Regions from separate parts of the Homo sapiens genome. Here region 1 is linked to region 2. The links come from fine-mapping of genetic effects on gene expression. A gene starts in region 2. The other region holds a variant in brackets. All regions are shown on one strand. Distances are between the middles of the regions. Region 1 overlaps XPO4 (exportin 4). Region 2 holds the start of IL17D (interleukin 17D).

What was found. PIP is the estimated chance that this variant, and not a neighbour inherited with it, causes the effect.
Region 1: its variant is fine-mapped to the expression of IL17D in esophagus muscle (GTEx, PIP 0.99).

The regions. Positions count from the first base shown.
Region 1 is chr13:20,834,141-20,845,460 of GRCh38, reverse strand. XPO4 (exportin 4) reads left to right here. Exons shown (of 23, transcript NM_022459.5): 5 at 1,575-1,691; 6 at 2,413-2,566. Among named protein-coding and RNA genes, the nearest start is that of XPO4, 63 kb to the left of the region's middle. The variant AT/T (reference allele first, on the strand shown) is at 4,518.
Region 2 is chr13:20,691,248-20,707,138 of GRCh38, reverse strand. IL17D (interleukin 17D) reads right to left here and starts at 3,440. Exons shown (of 2, transcript NM_001385224.1): 1 at 2,848-3,440. The coding sequence starts at 3,137. IFT88 (intraflagellar transport 88) reads right to left here. Exons shown (of 26, transcript NM_006531.5): 26 at 15,695-15,891. RefSeq lists silencers at 2,619-3,128, 3,419-3,558, 3,979-4,058.

The sequences.
Region 1 (11,320 bases), 140 kb before region 2:
ATTTTTATATTAAGTCATGTATATTTTGAAGTAAAATTACAAAATGTGTGTGTTTATGCCAAACCAGTAACATTCAGAGAACTTTTATTGTTGCAGAAGGCATCTTTGATCATACCCCTAGATTCGCTAGAGAATTTGCATTTACTTCCAGGTGTGGAAAAGTCTGAGAAACTTCTTTAACATATGGGGTTTTGTGCCTTTCATAAATATTAGCTATATAGTCACGCTTGTTTTAGTTGAGATTAAGAGGCAAATAGGAATTTAACTTTATGTTTACTCTTTTTTCTTTGAGACTTAGTCTTACTCTGTTGCCCAGGCTGGAGTGTAGTGGCGCGATCTCGGCTCATTGCAGCCTTCGGCTCCCAGGTTCAAGCGTTCTCCTGCCTTGGTGTCCCAAGTAGCTGAGACTACAGGTGCCTGCCATCATGCCTAGCTGATTTTTTTGTATTTTTAGTAGAGACAGGGTTTCACCATGTTGGCCAGGCTGGTCTCGAACTCCTGACCTCAGGTGATTGCCTGCCTCGGCCTCCCAAAGTGTTGGGATTACAGGCATGAGCCACTGTGTCCGGCCTATGTTTACATTTTTTAAAGAAAAATTTCAGACATATACAAAATGGACAGATAGTCTATTAGTCACTCATGGAACCATCAGTCACCTCTCACCTTCAACAGATATTTCCTGCCAGTTTTTAGGAATTTAATATCATTAAGTTATTTGCTAAGATTTGCCAAGATAAGTATCTGTAAGGTCAAGGTACTGACATCAGAAGCATTTCTGAACAGAGATGTTGCAGTTGGTGGGTGGGTATGACAGTGTTCAGCTGTTGGATAAGCTTGCATAAATAGTATCATCTTGACTTTAATCTTTCGGTTGTTCAGAGGTAGTGTGCATATTTCTGTTTAACTCCTGGAAAGTTGCCAAAATAATTTGTATCCTCTTTCCATCCTTTGTACCTTGACTGTTTTAGTCTGGGAATAAAATCAATGAGTTGATATTAGGAGCCTGTTGGATAGAACCAATGAGAAGAAAAATCTTCATTTTTCTATTTAAAAAACTTTTGGGTATTACCTGGCTATAATATTTTGGACACTATAAAATCTGTTTCACTTTTCATCTATTTGGGAATGCATTTTACAAACAGAACGGGGTCAAACATGGGTTGAAATCTCAGCTGGCCTTAGATAAGTACTCCAGGTCACTTCTCTCAAATGTAAAATGAGGATATAGGTTGTTCTGCGAATTAAACAAAATAATACCTTCAACATTTATTATTTTTAAATATCATTTGAATTCCACTATTGAGTAGGAACAGTGTGTCCTGAGTTCAAGTCTTAGATGGATTTGTATAACTGCATTTGAGGAAGTACTATTAACACTGACCAGACCACTTAGAAAGGAGAGCTAATATTTATTTTGTCATATCTGATTTTCTGACTAGTTGTTATAAGATCTAAAGATACAGTGGAAGATCTAAAGTTAGGGAGAAAATGTTCTATTATGTTTGAACAAATGCATTGAAACAAAGCGTTGAAACAGTAATGCCTCACAATTATTTCTTATCAAATAATTACAGCAAACTCTGGCCTGTTCTATTCTGACTGCGCTATTGAGTGAATTTTCAAGTTCAAGTAAAACTAGCAACATTGGATTGAGCATGGAATTCCATGGTAACTGCAAAAGAGTTTTTCAGGTATTGGTAGTTTTGTTCTTGAGTTTTAATTATTGGATCATTCACTTTTTACTCAATCTATTCCTAATGACATGAGAATATTTATTTTATGTAGTTGAATGGTAGCCTGTACTTCAGGATTTGTTTTGTGATTTCAAAGGATATAGTAAAATGATAGGTTTGGTGAATGTAGTTGATGGTTTAAAATTACTTGTTTAATTCTAGTCTTAAAAACAATACTTCTATAAAGATCTTTAGTTTATTATTTATTTCTTATTGTGTTTAGATATAACTAATTCAATTGAAGGGACTCTGCTGGCCTTAAAAATAGGTCTGGAAGAATGCCAGAAGGCCGTGTATTTCAAATGTTATTGCAGATGGTGCGGGCTCTTTGTCTTGTATGTATTGTTTGGCTCTGGAGTAAAGTTATGTGAAGGCATTGGCTTAAATCCTAGGGCTCTGCACTATAGCAACTGACTCCTCTGGCTCCGCAGTAGTTGTCAAAGACTCTCTTCTCTATGGAAGTAGCATTTATATTCAAGTAAAAGTATTCCATCTGGCGTCACTTGAAAGCATACTGCGATGTAAATTACAAGTAGAGGCCTAAAAATGGAACACGTTCTTAAGGAAATGGTGTTTTCCATTGGAAATTTTAAGGTGTTTGTTTTGTTTCATGATTCTAAAAGGGGATACATTTTGAATAAATTTTTCATATAAAATATTTGTGATTTATTGACTATAGGAAGAAGACCTTCGTCAGATCTTCATGTTAACTGTTGAAGTTCTGCAGGAGTTCAGCAGGCGGGAAAACCTCAATGCTCAGATGTCTTCAGTATTTCAGCGTTACCTTGCACTCGCCAATCAAGTCTTGAGCTGGAACTTTCTTCCTCCAAATTATATCCTTTTAACAAATGAATAGTTTATCTGTGGTAATTTTCATAGGTGACTTAATTACAGCTCGGAGTCTTTCACCTCTGCAGCTTTCATAAAACATATTGAAAGAAAATAAGATTTTTTTTAAGAAATAGAATTTAATTTCTTTATAATGCCAAAAGACAGTGGATACTAGGATAATACTAGAAGATTTAAAAGTATTTACTCCTTTGTAGAAGAAGTTTGAATACATAGAAACGTGGTGGATGACGGAGCTGTTGCTAATTCAGGATTAGCATTATTCTTTGGGAAGGAAAAGGAAACAGGTAGAAATTACCTTTTAAGAAACCGAATCATTTTTTCCTTGGACAAGTAATTATGTTTGATTTTTTTGACTGACTTAAAGCTAGTTTGGAGTGCTCTAATTTAATCTTTATGGATGGTGATGTTGTTCAAGTATAGGTAATAAGTTAGTAATATGTTTACTCTTCAAGGGCCTTTACCAGTATAAAAAAATGAGAATTTTGTTTTTAGGAAATTATTCAAAAGTTTAAGTGGGTTGTATTATCAATGCATATATCTGCTTTTTAAATTAGTTACTTAAAGTAGAGAAATTTGTATTTCATAAACTTTAAGGAACTGCTGTCTCATTTACTATGCTGGGACATCTGCTGCCCGTTGATAGTAATATACAGTGACTACCCATTTGTTGTGTAAAGTCCAATAGATCTGGATTCAAGGCTCTGCTCATCTTAGGCAAATCACCTGAACCTCTCTGAGTCTCAGCTTTTCCAAATGTAAAATGGGGGTATGGATTGTTGTGTGAATTAAATGAAACAATACATTTAAAACACTCAGGAGTTAGTTACTATTTATTGAGCTCTTAATAGCCTCCGTGAATTAAATAGTTCATTATATAACTAACTGTCTTTTATACTCTTCTTTGTTGAACTAATACGCCTCTGTGTGGTATAGGAAATTTAATGCGACCTGTTCTAGATGTTTTTAATCTGAGAGTCTGTTCAGGAGAAAAAGACTGATGATAAGCAGACAGGAAATAGATGTGAAATCAGATCAGAGATCTAGTATGGGACTCATTTTTATTGTAACAAGAGCCAAGAGGAGCTACATTTACATATACAGAAACTCGCTAATTATTTGTGGCTGGTAAAATTATGACATTTAAAGGAGTGTGGTGGGGTATAACTCCTTCTTCCATTTAAACTTAGTCTATTCACGTAGTAGAATATTAACTGTGAAGGGCTCTGTCAGGTAAAGTGAGTCTGACTCGTGAGCTCTCCAGGTTTCTTTCCCAAAAGCAGTCACTGAGCTGCTGCATTATGGGGCAAAGCTTACAGTAAGGTCAGTCACTGTTTCCTTTTATTCTTATTCTGTAATCATCTTTCTCCCAATAACCAACTTTTTATCTTTAATATATTAACTTAATTCTTTTTGGTTGTCAAGAGGTGGCTACTTGCTTAGGTTTGCTTTTTAAAAAATTTCCCCTTTCAGTGTTTCAATATTTTTGTTCTAGGTTTTTTGTTTGTTTGTTTTTTTAAATAAAGTTGGTAAGGCAGGCTTTATTCAGGGGAGCCAATGGTGATAGATGTGGGGACCACCACAACAGGATCTTGCAGTTGGGGAGAGAGATTGGATTCAGCTTCTTGCTCCAGTGTTTTCAGTGGGGAAAGAAAAGATATTGAAAAACCTTGAGACATATTTTAAAATTAGCAGTCCATATGGAGCTATCAAAATATTAATTATATATGTAGGGAAAAATCAACAAAAGTTACACTGCATATATTTTAAAGTGTCTGTTTTAAGGGAAAATACAGTTGGTAGAGAGTGACTATTTTATAAAAAGAAATAGTTCTCTGGGAGTTTGGAAACAAAGCTTGTCTAAAAGATACACACACATAAAATATTTTATAAAGTACTTAGATAAAGCTTTGGAAAATCTGTCATCTGAAAATG[AT/T]AAGCAATACTGCAGTGTTGCCAAAGGAAATAATTCCTTGTTTAAAGAAAGTATATCTTGGTTTTTGACTTGAGGATATTTTGCTTCATGGCTTATGAGTGAGTTCTTGTGTGACCTTTTCATATAGTGCCATTTGTTGGCTGACTGCACTACAGCTAAGTATTCTTTGAGTGGATTAGCTTTAAGTGTGGGAGAAAGAACTTGGCAGTGAGATTAAACTAAGCTACAGATTTAGCACTCATTAGGGAAATCAATTTCAAGGAACTCAATTCTGACTAATTTCTAATTTTGGAAATTACCTGGAGATCTACCATTCAATCAGTAAGGAAAAGAATGGAATAATTATGCAGCCTTGTACCATGGAGAGGGTCTAAATAATCAAATTTAACTTAGTTTAAAAGTGTTGAATTGATGCCTTTTAAAAGATGGTTTATCTGCTGGGTGCGGTGGCTCACTCTTGTAATCCCAGAACTTTGGGAGGTTGACATGGGAGGATTGCTTGAGTCTAGGAGTTCGAGACCAGCATGGGCAGCATAGCACAACCCTATCTCTACAAAAAAATACAAATATTAGCTAGGTGTGTGGTGTGTGCCTGTAGTCCCAGCTGTTCGGGAGGCTGAGGTAGGAGGATTGCTTGAGCCTGGAAGGTTGAAGCTACAGTGAGCCATGATCATGCCACTGCACTCACCCTGGGCGACAGAAGAGACCCTGTCTCAAAATAAAAATAAAATAAAATAAAATAAAAGGTGATTTGTCTCTTAGGATAGACAAATAATAAATCATGGAAAATTTGTGTATTTAGTGTTAAATATTTTGATAATTTAGAATGGTATGTTAAATGAGGCTGTGTTAAATTATCAGTAACAATCCCCCATTTATTAATTTTTTCTAATCTGCTTTCTTTTTTGTATCTATATTTTATATTGAGATAATTTTATTTTTATTTATTTATTTATTTTTGAGAAAGAATCTTGCTCTGTTGCCTAGGCTGGAGTGCAGTGACACTATCTTGGTTCACTGCAACCTCTGCCTCCTGGGTTCAAGCGATTCTCATGCCTCAGCCATCCAAGTAGCTGGGATTATAGGTGTGCACCACCACACCCAGCTTATTTTTATATTTTTAGTAGAGACAGGTTTTATCATGTTGTCCAGGCTGGTCTTGAACTCCTGACCTCAGGTTGATCCACCCACCTTGGCCTGCCAAAGTGTTGGGATTACAGGCATGAGCCACCATACCTGGCCCTGACTAATTTTTTTATTTTAATTTTTGTGGAGATGGAGTCTTGCTGTGTTGGCTAGGCTGGCCTCGAACTCCTGGCTTCAAGTGATTCTCCTCCTTCAGCCTCCCAAAGTGCTGGCATTACAGGCATGAGCCACCATGCCCAGTCTCAATAATAGTTTTATTGAGATGTAATTCACACACTATACTATATACCCATTTAGAATGTATAATTCAGTGTTTTTTAATATATTCATAGAGTTGTACAGCAATAATTGTCAGTAGTTTTAGAACATTTTCATCATCCCAAACACAAGCCCTGTGTCAATTAGCAGTTAGTCTCCATTTCCACCTTCCCCAGTCCGTAGCAACCACTTTCTGTCTATGCATTTACCTATTCTAGACATAGCGTATAAATGGAATCATATAATATGTGGTCCTTTGTGACTGGCTTCTTTTTGAGACGGAGTTTCACTCTGTTTCCCAAGGTGGAGTGCCGTGGCGCGATCTCGGCTCACTGCAACCTCTGCCTTCTGGGTGCAGGCGATTCTCCTGCCTCAGCCTCCTGAGTAGCTGGGACTATAGGCACACACCACTACGCCCTGCTAGTTTTGTATTTTTTAGTAGAGATGGAGTTTCGCCATGTTGCCCAGGCTGGTCTCGAATTCCTGTCCTCAAGTGATCTGCCTGCCTCGACCTCCCAAAGTGCTGGGATTACAGGTGTCATCCACTGCACCCATCCTTGCTTCTTTCACTTAGCATAATGTTTTCAAGATTCATCCATTTTGTAGCATGCAGCATCCATCAGTTCTTCATTCCTTTTCATTGCCATAATATTGTATGGATATACCACTTTTTTAATCCATTTATCAGTTGATGGACAGTTGGGTTGTTTCCACTTTTTGATTATTATTAACAATGCTGCTGTGAGCATTCATTTATAATTTTTGTGTGGGCTTAGGGTTTCATTTCTCTTTGGGAGGCCGAGGTGGGAAGATTGCTTGAGGCCAGGAGTTTGAAGTTGCAGTGATCTATCATCACACCACTGCACTCCAGCCTGGGCAACAGAACAAGACCAAAATGTAATTTCTTTCTTTTTTTTTTTTTTTTTTTTGAGATGGAGTCTTGCTGTGTTGCCCACGCTGGAGTGCAGTGGCATGATCTCGGCTCACTACAATCTCCACCTCCCAGGTTCACGCCATTCTCCTGCCTCAGCCTCCTGAGTAGCTGGGACCACAGGTGCCCGCCACCACGCCTGGCTAATTTTTTTGTATTTTTAGTAGAAACAGGGTTTCACCCTGTTAGCCAGGATGGTCTTGATCTCCTGACCTCGTGATCCACCCATCTCAGCCTCCCAAAGTGCTGGGATTACAGGCGTGAGCCACTGCGCCCAGCCCCAAAATGTAATTTCTTATAGAAAGTACTGTATTAATTGTGACTGTAAAATATTGGGAAAACCAGCTGAAGCTGACTGAGCAGTGGCTGTAGGATGTGCATAGAGAGATACTGACAAAATAATGCAGAGTAAATATTTAGATATTAATATTTAAGGGCATTAATGCTATCATAGTTAATAGCTTGTATTACAGTGTTCTTAGGTCAAGATTTACGCTCATGCAAAGTTTCATTAATGAAATCATAACTTGGCTGGGCGCAGTGGCTCACGCTTTTAATCCCAGTACTTTGGGAGGCCAAGGCCGGTGGATGGCTTGAGCTCAGGAGTTTGAGACTAGCCTGGGCAACATGGCAAAACCTCATGATGTGGTTTGACTCTGTGTCCCCACCCAAATCTCATCTTGAATTGTACTCCCATAATTCCCATGTGTTGTGGGAGGGACCCCGTGGGAGATAAAGTCATGGGGGCAGTTTCCTCCATACTGTTCTCGTGGTAGTGAATAAGTCTCACAAGATCTGATGGTTTTATCAGGGGTTTCCACTTTTGCATCTTCCTCATTCTCTCTTTGCCTGCTGCCATCCATGTAAGACGGGACTTGCTCTTCCTTGCCTTCTGCCATGATTGTTCCGTGTGTCCCCAGCCACGTGGAACTGTAAGTCCAATTAAATCTCTTTCTTTTGTAAATTGCTCAATCTCGGGTATGTGTTTATCAACAGCCTGAGAATGGACCAATACACCCCATCTCTTACAAAAAATTAGCCAGGCATGGTGGCACACACCTGTAGACCCAATTATTTGGGAGGCTGAGGCAGGAGAAGTGCTTGAACCCGGCGGTCAGAGGTGGCAGTGAGCTGAGATTACGCCATTGCACTCTACCTCTAGCCTGAGGGATAGAGTGAGACTCTGTCTCTAAAAAAGAAAAAAAAAGGAGAAGAAAGAAAACAAATCATAACTCTTTAACATTGATTCTCAACTAGGAACAATTTTGTATACTTGGGACATTTGGTGGTGTCTTGAGACAATTTGGATTGTCACAACTCGGGAAATGCTACTGCCATCTATTGGGTTGAGGCTACGGATGCTGCTAAACATCCTAAACATCCTACAAAGCACGGGACAGCCCCACACAAGCAATTATTGGGCCCAAAGTATCAATAGTCATCCACACAAAAACTTGTACATGAATGTTCAGAGCAGTACTATATGAATAGGCTATTCATAATACTATATGAGTAGAAACAACCCAAATGTCCATCAGCTGATGAATGGATAAATAAAATGTGGTATACCCATATAATGGGAATATTACCTGTCATAAAAAGACATGAATTACTGATACATGCTACAACATGTGTAAACTTTGAAAACATACTGAGTGAAAAAAGCCATTCACAAAAGACCACAAATTATATGATAACATATTTATGAAATGTCCAGGATGGGCAAATCTATAGAGACAGAAAGGTTAGTGGTTACCTAGAACTGGAGTGATTGGAACAAAGTAGGAGGTGACTGCTAAAGCATATGGGGTCTTTCTGGTACCATGGAAATGTTCTCAGATTAGATCATGGTCGTGGTTGCACACATCTGTGAATATGCTAAAACCATTGAGCTGTACACTCAGTGGGTAAATTGCGTAGTGTGTGAATTATGTCTTAATGAAGCCTTTAAAAATACCCATCATGTCACGGTGTAGAAACCCACTTCACACAGGTCAACTGCACCATTAGTAGAATTATAGAGGGAGATTAGGGGTGGAGATAAAGTTGTGGGAGAGTGGGGCCATTGAAGTTAAGGAAATAGGAGAGGTGGTCCAAGAAGGAGCAGAGGATCCATGTCAGGACCTTTAGGTGCATCAGTAGTGAAAAAGCAGGAAGAAGCAAAAGAAAATAAGAAAGCCAATTAAGACAAGTGGATGGGAGAACAAGGCAAGGAGTGTTTGGAAAGCAAAGATAGATGATGTTTCAAGGAATCAGGTAGTCAACATCGTCTGTTACCGATAGGTAAGATGTAGATTGTTTTTGATCTACACCGAATATCAGTTAGAACATAGTTGGTCATATGGAAGTCTGTTTATGTGAATGACAGGGGCAAAAGCCGTATCTCAGTGATCAGGTAGTAATTAGTAATTGATGAAGTATAGAGTGAAGTACAATTGACCCTTGAACAATGTGAGGGTTAGAGACACCAACCCCCATGCGGTCAAAAATTCCAGTATAACTTTTTACTCCCCAGAACGTTTTACTAATAGCTTACTGTTGCCTGGAAGACTTACTGATAACATAAACGGTCAGTTGGTACTTATTTTATGTTTTATATGTACTATAATATATTCTTAAAGTAAGTTAGAGAAAAGAAAATGTTGTTAAGACAATTATAAGGAAGATAAATGATATTTAGTGTTCATTAAGTATAAGTGGATCAATCATAAATGTCTTCATCTTCGTCTTCTAGTTGAGTAGGCTCAGGAGGAGGAGGAAGAGGAGGGGTTGGTCTTGCTGTCTCAGTGATAGTAGAGACAGAAGTGGAGGAGGTGAAGGGGAGGTAAGGAAAGGAAGGCACACTTGGTGTAACTTCTAGTGAAAGTACAAGTGGACCTGTGCAGTTCAAACCTGTGTTATTCAAGGGTCAACTGAACTATATAGATATTTCGAAGAGCATCAACTGACAGCTCAAGGGAATGGGGGTTTGTGCCAAGGAAATGTTGTTTTATGCTTTAAGCTTAGATGAACCTGTTTATTGCTTGAGGGGAGAAGTCAGGATTTCAGAAAGAAAATGTGATATTGTGGTGTTAGGCCAATGACATAGATGTTGAGATAGCCCAGGGCGTGGTTGAGGTAGGCAGCCCTGTGGTAGTGTGAACTGCCTGCCTTGATGATCCATACTTCTTAGCTATTAAGTGCTGATTTGACCAGCTTTGTCTAGGTTTCTTTCAAAATGGAGGAACACAGTGGTAGAAGTCAGCATGAGGGAATTTTATTTTATCATTATTTTTTTAAACTGATAGAATTGCAAGGAGAGTGATGGAATTTTAAAGCACATATATGTAAAGCCCTTGTGAAGTATTTTCTTCTGTCCTCTCTTTTTTTGAATAATCAGTATTTCCTCCAACTATTGTCTATTTGTACCTGGCATTGTACCCTTTAAAAAGAAAGTAGAGGCAGCACATGGTGGCTAACACCTGAATCTCAGCACTTTGGGAGGCCAAGGCAGGAGTATGGCTTGAGCTTAGGAGTTCAAAGTTACCTTGAACTATGATTGCACCACTGCACCCCAGCCTGGGCAACAGAGGAAGACCTTGTCTCTTAAAACAGAAACAAACAAAAAACTAAGTTAAGTTTTCTGATTTTTAAAAATTATTATTTATAGAGATAGGGTCTTGCTCTGTCACCCAGGCTAAGGTATAGTGGCATGATCATGGCTCACTGCAGCCTTGACCTCTGAGTTCAAGTGGTCCTCCTGCCTCAGCCTCCCAAGTAGCTAGAACCACAGGTACACATCACCACACCTGGCTAATTTTTAAATTTTTTTGTAGGGCAGGATCCCACTATGTTGCCCAGGCTGTCCTCAAACTCTCCTGGGCTCAAGTGATCCTCCCGCTTTGGCATCCAAAAGTGCTGGGATTACAGGCATGAGCCACTGGGCTTGGCCTGGATTTATTTATTAAAGGTTTTTTTTTTTTATTTCTTTCAACACTGTTTTATAGTTTCCAGAGCAAAAGATTATTAAATTTATTCTAAGTACATTTTTTTTTTGAGACTGGGTCTCGCCCTGTTGCCCAGGCTGGAGTGCAGGGGTGTAATCATGGCTCTTGGCAGCCTCGACTTCTTGGGCTCAAGCTATCCTCTCAACTTCAGCCTCTTGAGTAACTGGGACTATAGGCACGCATCATGATGCCTGGCTGATTTTTGTAGGGGTTGAGTTTCGCTGTGTTGTCCAGGCTTGTGAGTATTTTTTTATTATTCAATTGTAAATTGTTTTTTAAATTTCATTTTCACACTATATAGAGAAAAATACAAATGATTTTTGTATGTTGATCTTGTATCCTGTAATCTTGCTGAACTTGCTTATTAATGCTAATGAATTATATACATAATTGTATTATCTGCAAACCATTATATTTGTTAAGGATTATTATATGTAGCTTTTCTATGTGCAGCAGGTGATTTATGAAAGTATCCACCTAC
Region 2 (15,891 bases):
GAGAGGTGATTGGAGGGAGGAGGGCAGAGAGGGCTCTCCTGGCAGGAAAATGCAGGAGCAGCTTTGGCAGTCAGCAATCTGGAGTCCCAGCCCAGCAGCCATCCCCTGAAGACTGTCCTTCCTTCAGCAAATATAAGCCACCCACCTCCGTTTGCCCATGGGGAGTGATCTCATCACTGTTGCTAAATAATATGAAAAATGATGCACATGACACCTTCAGCCACCCTGCTGCAGCTGCCACTCCTGCTCCTGGGACCACCCAGCACTGAGGTTCCACATGTGGGCAGATCTGGGTGGCCCAGACCACGATCCCCGAACCCTGTGTGTCATTCTCATCCATAACCTCCCTCGGCTCCCAGATCCTGCCTGGGGCGACATAGGTGTCATCTGTAGCAAGGGCAACTCAATTTAACTTCCCACACACAGAATGCCAGTGCTGCTAACTCTCCATGTGTCCTCCAGCCCTGCTCTGTCTCCTGAGCTCCAACCAGTCATTGTCACCTGTACGCCTTTCAGGCAGGCAAAACTCAACAGGCTTGTTACTAAATTCATTATTTCCTCCCACAACACTTGTTCCTAAGTGTATTTTCTCATTTTGCTCAAATACCATCAACAACCCAAGCCAGAAACATGAGAGACATGCCTTTGGGAGGCTATATACTACTCTTAGGCCCTTGGCCCAGCCTGTGGGGAGCCACGGGTTTGCCTGAGAGTTCGAATCTGCTATAGAAAGCAGGGCCAGCAGCTTCTGTCCAGAGAAGTTAATCTCTGGTTCTGAGAGATTCCTTATGTGGCTTTAATCCTATTTGGTATATCAGAAGCATAACACGAGGTTAGAGAAAGAAGAATGCCGTAGTCCATCCCTTCAGGTCCTGGAAATGGAGGAAGAGAGAGGAAAAGCAAGAGCACCAAGATACCAGAATGAATGGCGCCATGTGTGTGCCCTGCAGGCTCCAGCTGAAGGACAGGAGTGAGAAGGGCGGGAGGGGTCCCACCCAACTTCCCCGTGGGCAGGGGCTCTGAGGGGGCTCTGCCACAGTGAGCTTGGTCCTCTGCAGAGTAGCCAGGAGGCAGGAGGCCCTAAAACTTGGCTTCCCAGGACAGCATAGGGGTCCTGTGTGTTGTTGAGTAAAAGGAAATCTCCCTACCCAGCAGCCGGCAGGGAGAGGCTCCAGGAAAGCCCAGATGCGTTTTAGACAAAATCATCACATTTCCTCTGACTCTCCACAGCACTTGTCTTCTTTAATGAGCATCTTTCACGCTGATCCTAGTCTCCCCTTCCCACCGCGCTGCCTGAGTGAAGCCCTAGATCCTTTGGATGGAAGTGCTGGAGAGCATTGTCCAATCCATGCCCCATTGGGACACCCTCCTAAACCAGAGTGGCTGTATGGCTTCCTCCATCTCAAGTGTCAAGACTTTTTTTCTCTTTAATTTTTATTTTAGAGACGGGGTCTCGCTTTGTCACGCAGGTTGGAAGGCAGTGGCGCCACCACAGCTCACTGCAGCCTGAACCTCCCGGGCTCAATCTATCCTCCCACTTAAGCCTCTGGAGTAGCTGGGACCACAGGCACGTGCCACCACACTTCGCTAATCCTTAAAAATTGTTTGCAGAAATGGGATCTCGCTATGTTTCCCAGGCTGGTCTCGAACTCCTGGACTTAAATCCTCCTGCCTCGGCCTCCCAAAGTGCTGGGATTCCAGGCGTGAGGGTGAAGCTCTGCACTGCTGACAAGGCGGGGATCCAGCTCCTGCACCTGTCTCCAGCCTTACATCGATGCCCACCCCACAGGCAAACACCTCGCCTACGCCCCCCCACCCCCACCGCCCCCGCTCGCCTTGTGGCTCTCCCCATTTTCCAAGCGCTTTGTTCCCGCTTGCTATCAGCTGTCCCTTCCCTCAGCACTGCCTTTGTAGGCGACTTGCTCTCCTCCATCAAGACTCAGCTCTTTCACGAAGCCTTTCTTGACCTCTGTGGCCCTGGGAGGCCTTGCCCCCTAGGGCAGCTCCTCCTGCTCCAGCTAGAGGGAAGACGGTCACAGGTGCCTGCTGAGGACACTGCGGCACCCTGCCTACACGCCCCCAACTTCTCCAGCCTTCCCCTTCTGCAGGCTGTCCCTTTCTTCTGAAATGACCTCTGTTCCAAGACCAAAATACTCTCGAAACTGTTCATGTCACTTCATGCACTGCCTGATGGTGTGGTTTCTTTCCCAATTATCCCCACTCCTTCCTTAGGCTATTAAACTAGAGGGGCTCAGAGGGCGCTTCCCAGGGCTCCACTCCAGCAGCCTCTGGACCACAGGGGCACTCAGGAAATATGTGGATAGTACCGCGCACCCCCCAGCAGCACCTCCCCGGGCCCCCTGTGCAGAGTACGGTCCACATCACTGTGTCCACATCACGGAAGGGTCCCCAGCTAGTGCCTTGCGGACCCATCCAACCTGGAGGAGATGAGGTGTTCAAGAGATACGTGTTGCATAGGAAATACTGGAGGGTAAAGAGAGGAAGCAGGACTCCTTCAAGGGAGGTGGTGGGGGTGGGCCTTCGCAGTTTAGGAATTGCCCCCCAGTGCTCCAACTGCCCCGCCCCACCCCGCCTCATCGCAGCGCCCCTCGCACCCCACCCCACCCTACCGTACCCTACCCTGTCTCGCCCCGCACCACCCCACCCCTACCTGCTCCGCCTCGCCCCGCGTGCCACGCCCCCTCCGCGTCGCCCCGCCCCAACCACCTCCCCTTCCCCGCCCCACCCTCCCCGCCTGCCCGGCCTCGGCCCGGCCCCACCCACTCTCCCCGCCCAGCCCTGCCCTCCCCACCTGCCGGGCCCCGCCAGGACGCGCCCGCGGCTCACCTGTAGGCCCAGGGCGACACGCTGCGCAGGTTGGTGGGCGGCCGGAAGCGGCGGTCGGCGGGCCTGCCCCCTGCCGGGCAGCTCGCGTTGCGCGCCTGCTCACGCGGCCCCAGCTGCAGCGTGTGGTGGAAGGCACTGAGCACGCCGGCCGCCAGGCGCCCGTACAGCTGCTCCAGTAGCTCCTCCGGCCGGTCCGCGCAGCCCCGCGGCCGCGCGGGGCGCCTGCCCGCCCTCGGGGCGCCCGCGGCCCAGCTCGGCGGCAGCGCCAGCAGGAAGCCGGCTACCAGCATCCAGACCTGAGGGACAGGCCACGCTCAGCGTCCGCACGCGCCGGAGGAGCCCGCCTGCGCCCCGCGCCCGTGTCCCGCCCGCGGCGCCCGGAGCCGGCGGGCGCCTCCCCTCGCCCCGCGGAGCCAGAGGCCGGCCCGGAGGATGGGAGCCGCGCGGGCGGGCCCCAGAGCGCCCTCCCCGCCTGCCCGCCGCCCGCGGGGTCCCCGGGGCCCAGCCCGGCGCCGGCCCGCGCGCCCCCGGCCCCCGCCGCCGCCGCCGCCCCGAGCCGGGGGCCGCACGGGGGGCGGGTGCGGGGCGCGCGTGCACGTGTGCGTGTGCCTGCCGGGTTGCTGCGCCGCGGGCTGCGAGTGCTTGTGACCCGCCGCACCCTCACCCCCGGGCGCGCCATCCCTGCTCCGCCGCCAGCGAGGGAGCCCCGGAGCCTAAGACGCCCGGACCCGCCGCCTCGCAGACCCACCCTTGCCCCTGCGCCTCGTCATCCGCCCGCCCCAGCCAGCCCGCGCAGGGTCCGCGGCCCGCTTTTCCGCGAGAAGCCCCCTGTGGTCTTTCCTCGTACCCGGGGACTCGGACCGAGAAGCCGACTGAGCGAGGTCGCCGCCCGGCCTCACGGACACAGAGCGACTCTGCACCTTTCGCCTCCAGGAGCTGAAAACATTTTGTCACTTGTGCAGTGTACTCACCAGTGCCCCCAACATCTTCTCCCCCGAAAGCGCTTTCAGATTCGCGCCGAGATGGGGCGACGCGGCGGCTCTTGAGCGGAATAACCCGAAGGGCCACGCAAACTGGGGCTTCCAGCCGCGAGCATGCGGCGGGGCGCCCAGGGCCTGGGGTCGCGCGCTCAGGGCCTGTGCTGCGCCACGCAGGAGGAGGAGAGGGCTGGCCCTGCCGGGCGCGGGTGCGGGCCCGACTGGCTGAAGGAGGAGTGGGGACTGGCTTGGAAGTCTCCGAAGCAGAAAAGTGGGGCCGACAGGATGGAATTGGGGGAGGCCGATTTTGGCTCAGAGAGATTTCTCTATTAAGGAAAGCAGTCCAAGAATAGGCCCCCTGGAAGAGGAATGCGCTCAAACCCAGAGGGATTCTCCTTAGAGCTACCTCTTGAGATTCTGTACTTCGAGGAAATTAGAGGTTTTTTTAAATCTCTATTTTTAATAAGGTGGGAGGAGGCTGTTGCTCCTTTCTCCTCAACAACATGAAATGATCCTGTGCCTCTATCCAACAACTCTACAACAAAGCACTGAATACTTCCCTGACTGGCACTTTCATGGCTGTTCATGGGCATCTCTTGGTCTATGACGACGATGTTGGAGAGTTCCTACTCCGTGATAACTCAGTTCTAAGTGCAAGCAGTCACGTGAAATGAGCCTGATAGTCTGCGAATGAAGAAACTAAAACGAACTATATTATATACTTCATAACACAAGACAACGTGCTCGTTTGTTCATTCTGCAAGTAAATGCTTAATGCTTCCTAGGTGGCAGGCTAAAGAATATGATCATTTTAAAGCAGTCATGCTTTGAAAATAAACAACCCATCCCAGCTGTAAGCTTTTTGAAAGTGTACAAAATATGTAATTGATGACTCCCTAAATGGTTTGCAGCTTTGGTATTTGACTGAATTGTAAACCATTAGTTAAACTACATTTCAGTTATGCTTTGTAGGAAAAACACTTTCCTATGCATTGAATGTTCTATAACTAAGGAGCTTAGTAATCTACTGCTAAAAATCTCACTGAAATCTCCAGTTTAAGCGATTTAAGCAATTTACAGCTCTTGGCAAATATTTGTTTTGGGTTATAAAACACTTTTTTTCTGACTAGTAAATTGTTCATGTTCTTTGTTTCCAGTAAAATGGGAATAAAGGTTTCAGTACTCAAATACTGCTTATTTTTTATTGGAAAAAAGGAAGCGTGGGAGGCTTTTAAGAGAGTATCATTATGAGGGTTTCATAGAAATACTCAGTCTGTCTCATTTCAGCATCCATTCCTATATGAGGTGACATGGTACCAGACTTAGTTCTGTATGTTATTCAACAAAGTATTTTCCACTGTCTGGTAACATGGCAGCTTCTCTCTTCCTCACCACCCCCCCGGATTACCTTGGAAGTGGGAAGGAAAATATTTACTTTCCAGCAGTTTTCATTTTGTGAAAGATCACAAATGACTGAAAATGCTCACCTATTTGGCAGAACAAATTTGATATTTGTGAGACTAATCAGTTGAGAGTCATAAATAGGTGCAAATGTTTATGAGTTCCCCTCAAATTTCAACATATTTGTGAAGATGCAAAATAAGCATGTTAGTAAGTTCAAACCTAAGACATACAAGTGAAAAAAAGGGAACAACATACTCAAAAGCAGGCTCATCGTGTTCCCTTAAAACCAACATATCTGTAATGTGGCCACGCAAGCTTCATTTGAAGCCTCTCCAGTCCCTCATCCCCTGGTTTACTCAGCACACCCAATACCAGCACAGCTGCAAGACTGCTTAGCATGGGGCAAGCTGTTGGGGAAAATCTTTTAAATCATCCTTAGGCACCGTAACTCCAAAAGCCGGTGTGTGGTTGGCTCCTTCCATACTAATAATCTTGGGTTACTGATGTTCGTATCTACCCAAACCTCTTTCTCTTCCTTAAAGAGCTGTCCTTGAGGCCGGGCATGGTGGCTCACGCCTGTAATCCCAGCACTTTGGGAGGCTTAGGCGGGCGGATAACGAGGTCAGGAGTTCGAGATCAGCCCGCCCAACATGGTGAAACCGGGTCTCTACTAAAAAAAAATACAAAAAGCCGGGTGTGGTAGCGCATGCCTGTAATCCCAGCTACTCAGGAGGCTGAGGCAGAAGAATCGCTTGGACCCGGGAGGTGGAGGTTGCATTGAGCCGAGATTGCACCACTGCACTCCAGCCTGGGCAACAGAGCTAGACTTCGTCTCAAAAAAAAAAAAAAAAAAAAACTGTGCTTGGATGTTCCTACTGATAGCGCTCTCATTGCTGTCACCTTGCTGGTCACTCCCTTGATTCACTGATTTTAGCACCTGGGTCTACCACTATTCCTGCTGATCATTCCTGGCACCTTAACCTCCACAGAGACAATTTAACATGCTGATTTCCAAGTGACTACGTTAGCCCCAATTGTCTTTATTTCCCATCTCATCTCAACTGTCAAGTCATAGGGTCATATCCAAGGTTTCGTCATCACCAATAACTGCAATACAGCCAAACATCTGATTTCAAATATCCTATTCCTTGACATAGGTGCCTTCTGTTTTCGCCCACTCCTGCAGTTTTCTGCCGTCATCCAGCCTTCTCCCACTTCTCACTAACCGTTCCACCCTTGAGTCCTTATGTCCTTTCTTGTCTAGTTTAGATTCACAGTTCGACACTGTCGCCACGCCCTTGCAAACACCCTTAATCCCTTTCTCCTTTTTTCTCTGTTGTAATTGCCTAGAATCCCAACTCTTAAAAATCATACAACTGAGCTGAGTAGACTCAGTTCTGAGTTATGACCACAAATCTCAGATTAACATTCAACATAAGTATCGTATTACACCTCTGCAGTTATGGTCTTCTTCCAGTATCACTAATCTACATATTCTCTTTCCTCAAGTCTCTACTGCCCAATTCGTTCCTCACACCTTCCACAGACCACAGATGAGAGCTTTTACATTTCTTCCAACCAGCAAATGCACTGACTTACTCCCACCCAGTCTGATGTCTCCCACCTTCTTTCCTGATGCATTTGATAAACCCTTTCTTGACCCCAGGTCCCACTTGACTCCCCTTTACAGCAAAGGTTCTGAATTTTTATTTTGTTTTATTTTTGAGGTGAAGTTTAACTCATTGCCCAGGCTGGAGTGCAGTGGTGTGATCTCGGCTCACTGCAACCCCTGCCTCCCGGGTTAAAGCTATTCTCCTGCCTCAGCCTCTCGAGTAACTGGGAATATAGACACGTGCCACCATGCTGGGCTAATTTTTGAATTTTTAGTAGAGACAGGGAGGGTTTCACCATGTTGACTGGGCTGGTCTCAAACTCCTGACCTCAGGCGATCCACCGGCCTTGGCCTCCCAAAGTGCTGGGATTACAGGAGTGAGTCACCACGTCCGGCCTTGATGAGCATTCTTTTTCTATCCTTTCTTTTTCAACCTATCTGTGCCTTTAGACAGTCACATGTCTTTTACCAACAGGGATGCATTCTGAGAAATGTAAGGTGATTTCGTTGCTGTGTGAACACCCTAGGTTGTATTTAAACTGAGTATAGCCTACTATACAACTCGGCTCTGTGGGGTGTAGTTTAGGCTACAACACATCTAGGCTACAAACTTGTACAGCATGTTACTGTACTGCATAATGTAGGCAATTGTAACACAATAGTAAGTATTTGTGTATCTAAATATAGAAAAGGTACAGTAAAAATTTGGTATTATAATCGTATGGGGCCACCATCATATATGTGGTCTGTTTTTGACTGAAATGATGTCATGTGGTGCAGGACTGCATTTAAAATGTGTCTCTTGTAAGTAACATATAGTTGAGTCTTGTTTTTTAATAGTCTGATAATCTTTGTCACTTAACTGGAATATTCTATTTACATTTGCTGTATTTTTAAACATAACTAGCATTTACTAATTATTAATGTAATTGAGTTTGCATTTTTATAATTACTAATGTAACGTAATTACTAATATAAATAGGTTTAAGTCCTGTCTTGTTGCTTGTTTTCTCTTTGTTCATCTGCTCTTTATTCCTTTATTTCTCCTTTACCTGCCTTTCTTTGCATTAATCAAGTATTTTTCATCATTACATTTTGTCCTCCATTAGCTTTTTTATTTTTATTTATTATTTTTAGGCACGGGGTCTTGCTCTGTCACCAAGGCTGGAGTGCAGTGGTGCTATCATAGCCCACTATAACCTGGAGCCCCTGGACTCAAGCCATCATCCTGCCTCAGCTTCTTGAGTAGCTAGGACTACAGGTGTACACCACCACACCCAGCTACATTAGCTTTAAAAAAAACTTTTATTTTGAAATAATTTCAGACTTATAGAAAAGTTGTAAGAAGAATATGAAGGAACTCCACATACCCTTCACTCAGTTCCACTATTTGTTCACATTTCTCCACATTGCTTTTTCACTGTGCTTTCTTCTGGACCACTGAGCCATCGAGTTGCAGAAATCAGGACCCTTTGTCCCACAGCACCTCAGTGTGTATTTCTCAGGAACAAAGACATTCACTTATGTAACCGTAGTGCAATTCTAAAAATTAAGACATTTTACAAATACTTATCTAATGTAGATGGTCTCCAGCTTATGATTGTTCAATTATGATTGTTCGACTTTGTGATAGGCTTATTGGGACATAACCCTATGGTAAGTCGAGGAGCATCTGGATTTAATGATAGTTCAAGCTATGATTTTTCATCTTTATGACTGGTATAACAGAGTAATAAATGTATTTTCAACGTGTGGTGTTTTTTAACAATGGGTTTATCAGGACACAGCCCCATCATAAGTTGAGGAGCATCTGTACATTCCTATTCCCATTTCACCAGCTGTCTCTTTAATGTCCCTTAAAGCAAAATTCCCCCAGTCCAGGATCTCATCAAGGATCATGCATTACATTTTGTTGACATGTCTCTTTAGTCTTCCTTCCTCTCCCCTCCCCTCCCCTTCTCTCCCCTTCCGTCCCCTCCTCTTCCCTCCCCTCCCCCCTTCCTTCCTTCCTTCTTTCTCTCTTTCTCTCTTCTCTCCTTCCTTCCTTCCTTCCTTCCCTCCTTCCGTCCTTCCCTCCCTCCCTCCCTCCTTCCTTCCTTCCTTTTTTGTTTTTTTGACAGAGTCTCACTCTGTTGCCCAGGCTGGAGTGCAGTGGTGCAATCTTGGCTCATTGCAATCTCCACCTCCTGGATTAAACTGATTCTCGTTCTTCAGCCTCCCAAGAAGCTGGCACTACAGGCATGCACCACCAGGCCCAGCTAATTTTTTGTATTTTTAGTAGAGATGGGGGTTCCCGCTATGTTGGCCAGGCTGGTCTTGAACTCCTATCCTCAAGCGATCCAGCCGCCTTGGCCTCCCAAAATCCTGAGATTACAGGTGTGAGTCACTGAACCCAGCCTGCTTTAGTCTTCCTTAATCTGGAACAGTTCCTCAGACATTTTTTTGTCTTTCATGGCCTTGACATTTTTGAAAAGTAGAGGCTAGTTATTTTGTCAAATGTTCTTCAGTTTATGGTATTTCTTCATGATTCGGTTCAGGTTAGTTTTTTTGGCAGGAATATTGGCTACGTAATCTCATATCTTTTCAGTGTCTCACATCAGGGGCATAAGGATTTTATTCATCCCATTATTGGCTGTGTTCACTTTGGTCATGATTAAGGTAGCACCAGGTTTCTCCAGTATAAAATTTTTCTTCCTCTTATAATTAATAAGTAATTCATGGGGGAAAACTTTGGGGCTATGTAAATACGCTATTCTCATCAAACTTTCCTTCACTTGCTTTAGCAATCGGTGATGATTCTTGCTTGGATTAATTTTGTGGTGGTTGCAAAGTGGTGATTTTCATTTTATTTATTTATCTATTAGTTATTATTTATCTATTTATTTTTAGAGATAGTGTCACGCTCTGCCACTCAGACTGGAGTACAGTGGTGCCATCATAGCTCACTGTAGCCTCAAACTCTTGGGCTCAAGTGATCCTCCCACCTCAGCCTCCTAAATAGCTGGGACCATAGGCACTTGCCACTGTGCCTGGCTTATTTTTTAATTTTTTGTAGAGACAGTGTCTTGCTTTGTTGCCCAGGCTGGTCTCAAACTCCTGCCTTCAAGCAATCCTTCTGCCTCGGCCTCTCAATGTGCTGGGATTACAGGCATGAGCCACTGCACCTGGCTGATTTTATCATTCTTTCCATATTCATTAGTTGTACCATTACTCTTTTAATTGTACATTCTGCAAAATACTCCTCATTATGGTCTAGCACTGTCTGAATGATATAAGAAACTTCATTTAATACCCAGTCCCAATCTTTGGACTAGTATTGTCATTATTTTATTTCTATGTATCTTAAAATTCCACAAGGCATTATTATTGTTGTTTTAAATAGTGAATATTCTTTCTTTTATATATCCCCATACCTTTCTGGTGCTTTTCATTATTTTTCAACTTTGTGATCAGTTTCTGTCATTTCATGCTTCTTTCTAGGATCATCTTCCTTTAGCCTGTAGGACTTTTTCTGTGGACCTAGTCTTCTGGTAATTAATTTTCTCAAATTTTATTTGTCTGAAAAATTTTTTTTTTTTTTGAGACGGAGTCTTGCTCTGTCGCCCAGGCTGCAGTGCAGTGGTGCGGTCTCAGCTCACTGCAACCTCCGCCTCCCAGCTTCAAGTGATTCTCCTGCCTCAGTAGTTGGGATTACAGGTGCCTGCCACCACACCTGGCTAATGTTTGTATTTTTTAGTAGAGACGGGGTTTCACCATGTTGGCAAGGCTGGTCTTGAACTCCTGACTTCAGGCGATCCACCCTCCTCGGCCTCCCAAAGTGCTGAGATTACAGGCATGGGCCACTGCGCCCGGCCTGAAAACTCTTTAACTTTAAAGTTTATAGGATATATTCACTGGAATATAAATCTAGGTTGGCAGACTTTTAATTTGTTTTTCAGCACCTTAAGGATACCATTTTATTGTCTTCTGGTTCCTTAGTTTTATTGAAAAGTTAGCCATAAATCTTATTAATGTTCCTCTGAAAGTACTGTGTCCTTGTAATTCTGCTTATCTTAAGGAAGTCGTGGGTTTTAGCAGTTTGAGCACAATGTAACCACAGCGTGGTCTTCTTTGTATCTCCTTGGTGCTCACTGAACTTCCTAAATCTGTGGCTTTATGTCTTTTTCAATTTGGGGAGATTGTAGACATTATCTCTTCTAATGTTAATTCTACCCTATTCTCTCTTCCACTCCTTCCGGGATTCCCATTATAATTATTTAAACTCTTGACTGTGTCCCAAGTGTCTCTTGTCAGCTGCTTTATTTTGCCAGTCTTATTTCTCTTTGCTTTAGTTTGGATATTTTTCTATTGACCTACTCACTAATCCTGACATCTGCTGTGTCTGGTACATTGTTCAATCCATCCAAGTAAGTTCATTTCAGATATTGTGTCTTTCAGTTTTAAGTTATTTGACTCTTTTTCACAGATTCCAACATTCAATTGAAATTTTCCATCTTTTTATCCATTTTATTAACTTAACACACTAGTCACAAAGTCCTTGTTTGTTAAATCCATTATCTGGATTTTCTAGAGGACTGCTTCTATTTATACTTTCTCTTGATTGCTGGTCATATTTTCTTGACTCCTTGCATTCTAGTAATTTTTTTTTTCTTGAGACAGAGTCTCGCTCTGTCGCCCAGGCTGGAGTGCAGTGGCGCGATCTCTGCTCACTGCAAGCTCCACCTCCTGGGTTCACGCCATTCTCCTGCCTCAGCCTCCCGAGTAGCTGGGACTACCGGTGCCTGCCATCACGCCTGGCTAATTTTTTGTATTTTTTAGTAGAGACGGGGTTTCACCATGTTGGTCAGGATGGTCTTGATCTCCTGACCTCGTGATCTGCCCGCCTTGACCTCCCAAAGTCCTGGGATTACACGCATGAGCCACTGCGCCCAGCCACAGTAATTTTATTACATGCCAAGCATTGTATATATAAGAACCGTAGAGACTGCAAATGATATTCTTACCATAGAAAGGTCCTCTTTCCTCTCTTAGGCAGAGAGAATTCAGGACTAATTACTTCAATCCAGTCAAGGATTGAGTTGAGTTGCAGGGTCTCCTTCTGTTGCCCAGGCTGGAGTGCAATCACAGCTCACTGTAACCTTGAAGTCCTGGTCTCGAGTGATCCTCCTGCCTCAGCCTCTCGAATAGTGGGGACTATAGGTGCATGCCACCATGCCCCGGCTAATTTTTTTATTTTTTGTAGAGACAGGGTCTCACTATGTTGCCCAGGCTGGCCTTGAACTCCTGGCCTCAAGCAATCCTCTTGCCTCAACCTCCAGAAGCACTGGGATTACAGGCATGAGCCACCTCACCCAGCCTGGGCTGCAGTTTTTGTATAAGGGTCAGTCCACCGTTGATTCATGTTTGTCCTTCTAGGCTTTTGATTAGGAGCCTAGATTTGTCTCCTCAGCTGAGAAAGATGGAAAAAGAGTCAAGTTGGTCCCTCCAGGTTTTGACTTTAGATTGTTAGCCTCCTGCCCCCATGCAGATTCAAAAAATAGCAAATATCTTTTTTTTTTTTCTTCAAGACGGAGTCTTGCTCTGTTGCTCAGGCTGGAGTGCAGTGGCGCAGTCTTGACTCACTGCAACCCCTGCCTCCTGTGTTAAAGAGATTCTCCTGCCTCAGCCTCCCAAGTAGCTGGAATTACAAACGAGCACTATGCCCAGCTAAATTTTGTATTTTTAGTAGAGACAGGTTTTTGCCATATTGACCAGGCTGGTCTCAAACCCCTGACCTCAAGTGATCCATCCGCCTCATCCCAAAGTGCTGGGATTACAGGTGTGAGCCAGTATGCCCGGCCCCCAAAATAGCAATTATCTTGAGGGTAGACTAAATAGCAAATATCTTGTGGAAAGCCTTTCCCCCTAGCAGGACATCGTCCCCTAAGAACTATGGGAGATTTAAGCCCTTAAAACCTCCATCCCAGTTCCCTAGCCTCCAGCATTACCCCAGCTGAAGCAGCACTCCAGCAAATGCCCCATGGTGGAAAGCCAGCCATACATTTGGGGCTTCTCTAAGTTTCCAGTTTGTCATGCCAACCCCAAATGACCACCTTAAAAGCTCTGTTAGTTTCTCTAGATGACGCCTTTTCCCTGAGGAAAGTGCAGTTCTTAGCCCATGCCTAGAACTGGTGAATGTCTCCAGAAAAACAGGCAGGATCAGCAGTTCATTTAGAAATGGCTCTTTTGGGCTGGGCGCAGTGGCTCACGCCTGTAATCCCAGCACTTTGGGAGGCCGAGGCGGGTAGATCACGAGGTCAGGAGTTCAAGTCCACCCTCTGGCCAAGATGGTGAAACCCCGTCTCTACTAAAAATATAAATATTAGCCAGGCATGGTGGCAGGTACCTGTAATCCCAGCTACTTGGGAGGCTGAGGCAGAGAATTGCTTGAACCCAGAGAATTGGGAGGCAGAGGTTGCAGTGAGCCGAGATCACGCCACTGCACTCCAGCCTGGGCGACAGAGGTTGCAGTGAGCCGAGATTGTGCCACTGCACTCCAGCCTGGGCGACAGAGCAAGACTCTGTCTCAAAAAAAAAAAAAAAAAAAAAAGGCTCTTTCCTCTCTGCAATTTTTAGTTTTATTGATTCCACAGATCTCCAGAGACTTTGAAGACATGATTTTTGCAATGATTTGTTTTTTTTTCCCAGCTGCTACGGAGGGCTTCCATGACCTACTGCATCCTTCTCAGAACTGGAAGTTTGAATCCTGAAACCTCCTACATCACTTGTTGCTCTTCTCAGTCTCTTCTGCTGAGCCATCCTTTTTCTCTGGTACTCACAAGCACATTGCTTATACTTCTTCTCTAGCCTCACTCTCAGACCTAATTGATCTCATTCAGTTTCATGGTTTTAAGTACGAAGTGTACATAGATGGATCCCACATCTCTACCTGTAGCCCTCACTTCTGTGACCTCCAGATTTTAAAGATTAACTGCATTCTTCGCATCTCAAATTGAATGCTTGAGACAAATTTAACATGGGTAAAACACATCTACTTATTCCCCCCCAAATCTATCTTACTAAAAAGACAACACTAGCCACTCCGTTCCTTAGCCACAAATTTTGGCATCATCTTTTCCTCTCTTTCCCTCACAATCCACATCCAATCCATTAGTAAGTCTCAGCTCTGCCTCCAAATATATGCTGAATCTGACCACTTCTCACAATTTTCTATTGCTAAAAACCTGTCTCAATTGCTTTCATCTCTTACCCAGGCTACTGCTAGTAGTTTCCACTCTTCCCTTCCATCCCACTTGCCCACTTCATCTTCATGGCGACCAGTGTGATGACTGGTTTCTAAAGGTTAAATGAAAGCACTTCACTCACCCCCCTTGCATGAAACCTTCTAGCAGGTGTTCTATAGTAACTAGAATAAGATCCAAACTGTCTTTATAAGGCTGTACATGCTCTGAACCCTGCCTACCTTTTGGATCTCATCTCCTTTCCCTTTCCTGCCCATGTAGCACACCACCCACACTGCTGGATCCCAAACCCTCTCACTATCACTGTAGCTCAATAACCCTGTGACACATCCAGATCATTCATTTTTCAGTGTGCGGCACTTGCTGCTCCTTCTGCTCAGAACACTGCTTTCTTCTCACCATTCTAGTGTTATTACCAAGGCCACCTCTTAGAGTCCCTCCTCTATAATCACTACCTATTGCATTACTCCATTTTGTTCTCTTAACTGTAATTAACAATATCTAGAGTCCTTTAAAAACATATTTTCTGGCCAGGCACGCTGGCTCATGCCTGTAATCCCAGCTCTGGGAGGCCAAGGTGGGTGGATCATGAGGTCAAGAATTCGAGACCAGCCTGGCCAACATGGTGAAACCCCGTCTGACTAAAAATACAAAAATTAGCCAGGTGTGGTGGTGCGTGCCTGTAATCCCAGCAACTCAGGAGGCTGAGGCAGGAGCATTGCTTGAAACCAGGAGGTGGACGTTACAGTGAGCCAACATTGCACCACTGCACTCCAGCCTGGGCGACAGAGTGAGATTCCATCTCAAAAAAAACCCAAACAAACAAACAAAATATATTTTCCATCTCCCCACCAGAATTTAAGCTTCTTGAGGGCAAGGTATAGTTCTTTTTCACTACTGTATCCCCCAAATTTTAATGAATTCTCTGCACATACTGGATGTTTACTGTATTTGTTGGCTGTCTCATCAATTAGAGCATAACCTACTTTGGGAGCAAGGAATGTGGTCTAGTTTTGGTTTTCCTCCCTCGCATCTAACAGTAGCATGCACGTTGCAGAGACAATGGTAAGTAAGATTGAGGGGTCCATTCTCTTTGGTATAGTGTTAGAGATAAGCCACTGCTTCTGACATCCTCGTCATTATAATTCCTCTGGAGACTCTAGACCAGCCAAACACATTGTTAAAGAAAAATGCAGGCAGTCCTGCCCCCAACCCACTAAGTCACAAATGGGAAAAGCCATCTTAGAGTTGTTACTGCTCTGTGCTATTGGTGCACACCCCCGGGCTGAAGTAGAAAGGAACTTCGGAAAGGAGCACTAGGGTTATGGTTTGGTATTTAATCCCATTACCCTTTATACTGCTTCCAAAACATAATTGTTTTAATAGTGTTTCTAATCCCCACAAGGCAAATCTTCCAAAGAATTTCCAAACTCCAAGCAATTTAAGTATGAATAGAAATTGTGCCTATGTCCACACAGCATTTTTCAATCTGCAAGCCATGAAATCAATGTAGTGGCTTCACTACTAGCACTTTGTTTGAATGAAACTATAGAAAATATTAGCATGTATTGCAATAATAAGGGTAAATTTTTATGACTACATACACATATATGTACTAGGTTGTGTTATGAAATTTATTTCTTCCTGTGTGTCAATGTTTTCAAAAAGCTAAGGAAGTCACTGGCCTAAAGTATTAGTTTTACCTGTTTTTATTCCTTAAAAGAAAAAAACAACTTAAATGCATACATACAGAATAGAATACACTTACTTAAGTTTTGACAGTGAAAAAAAATAATTACAGGTTAGATAT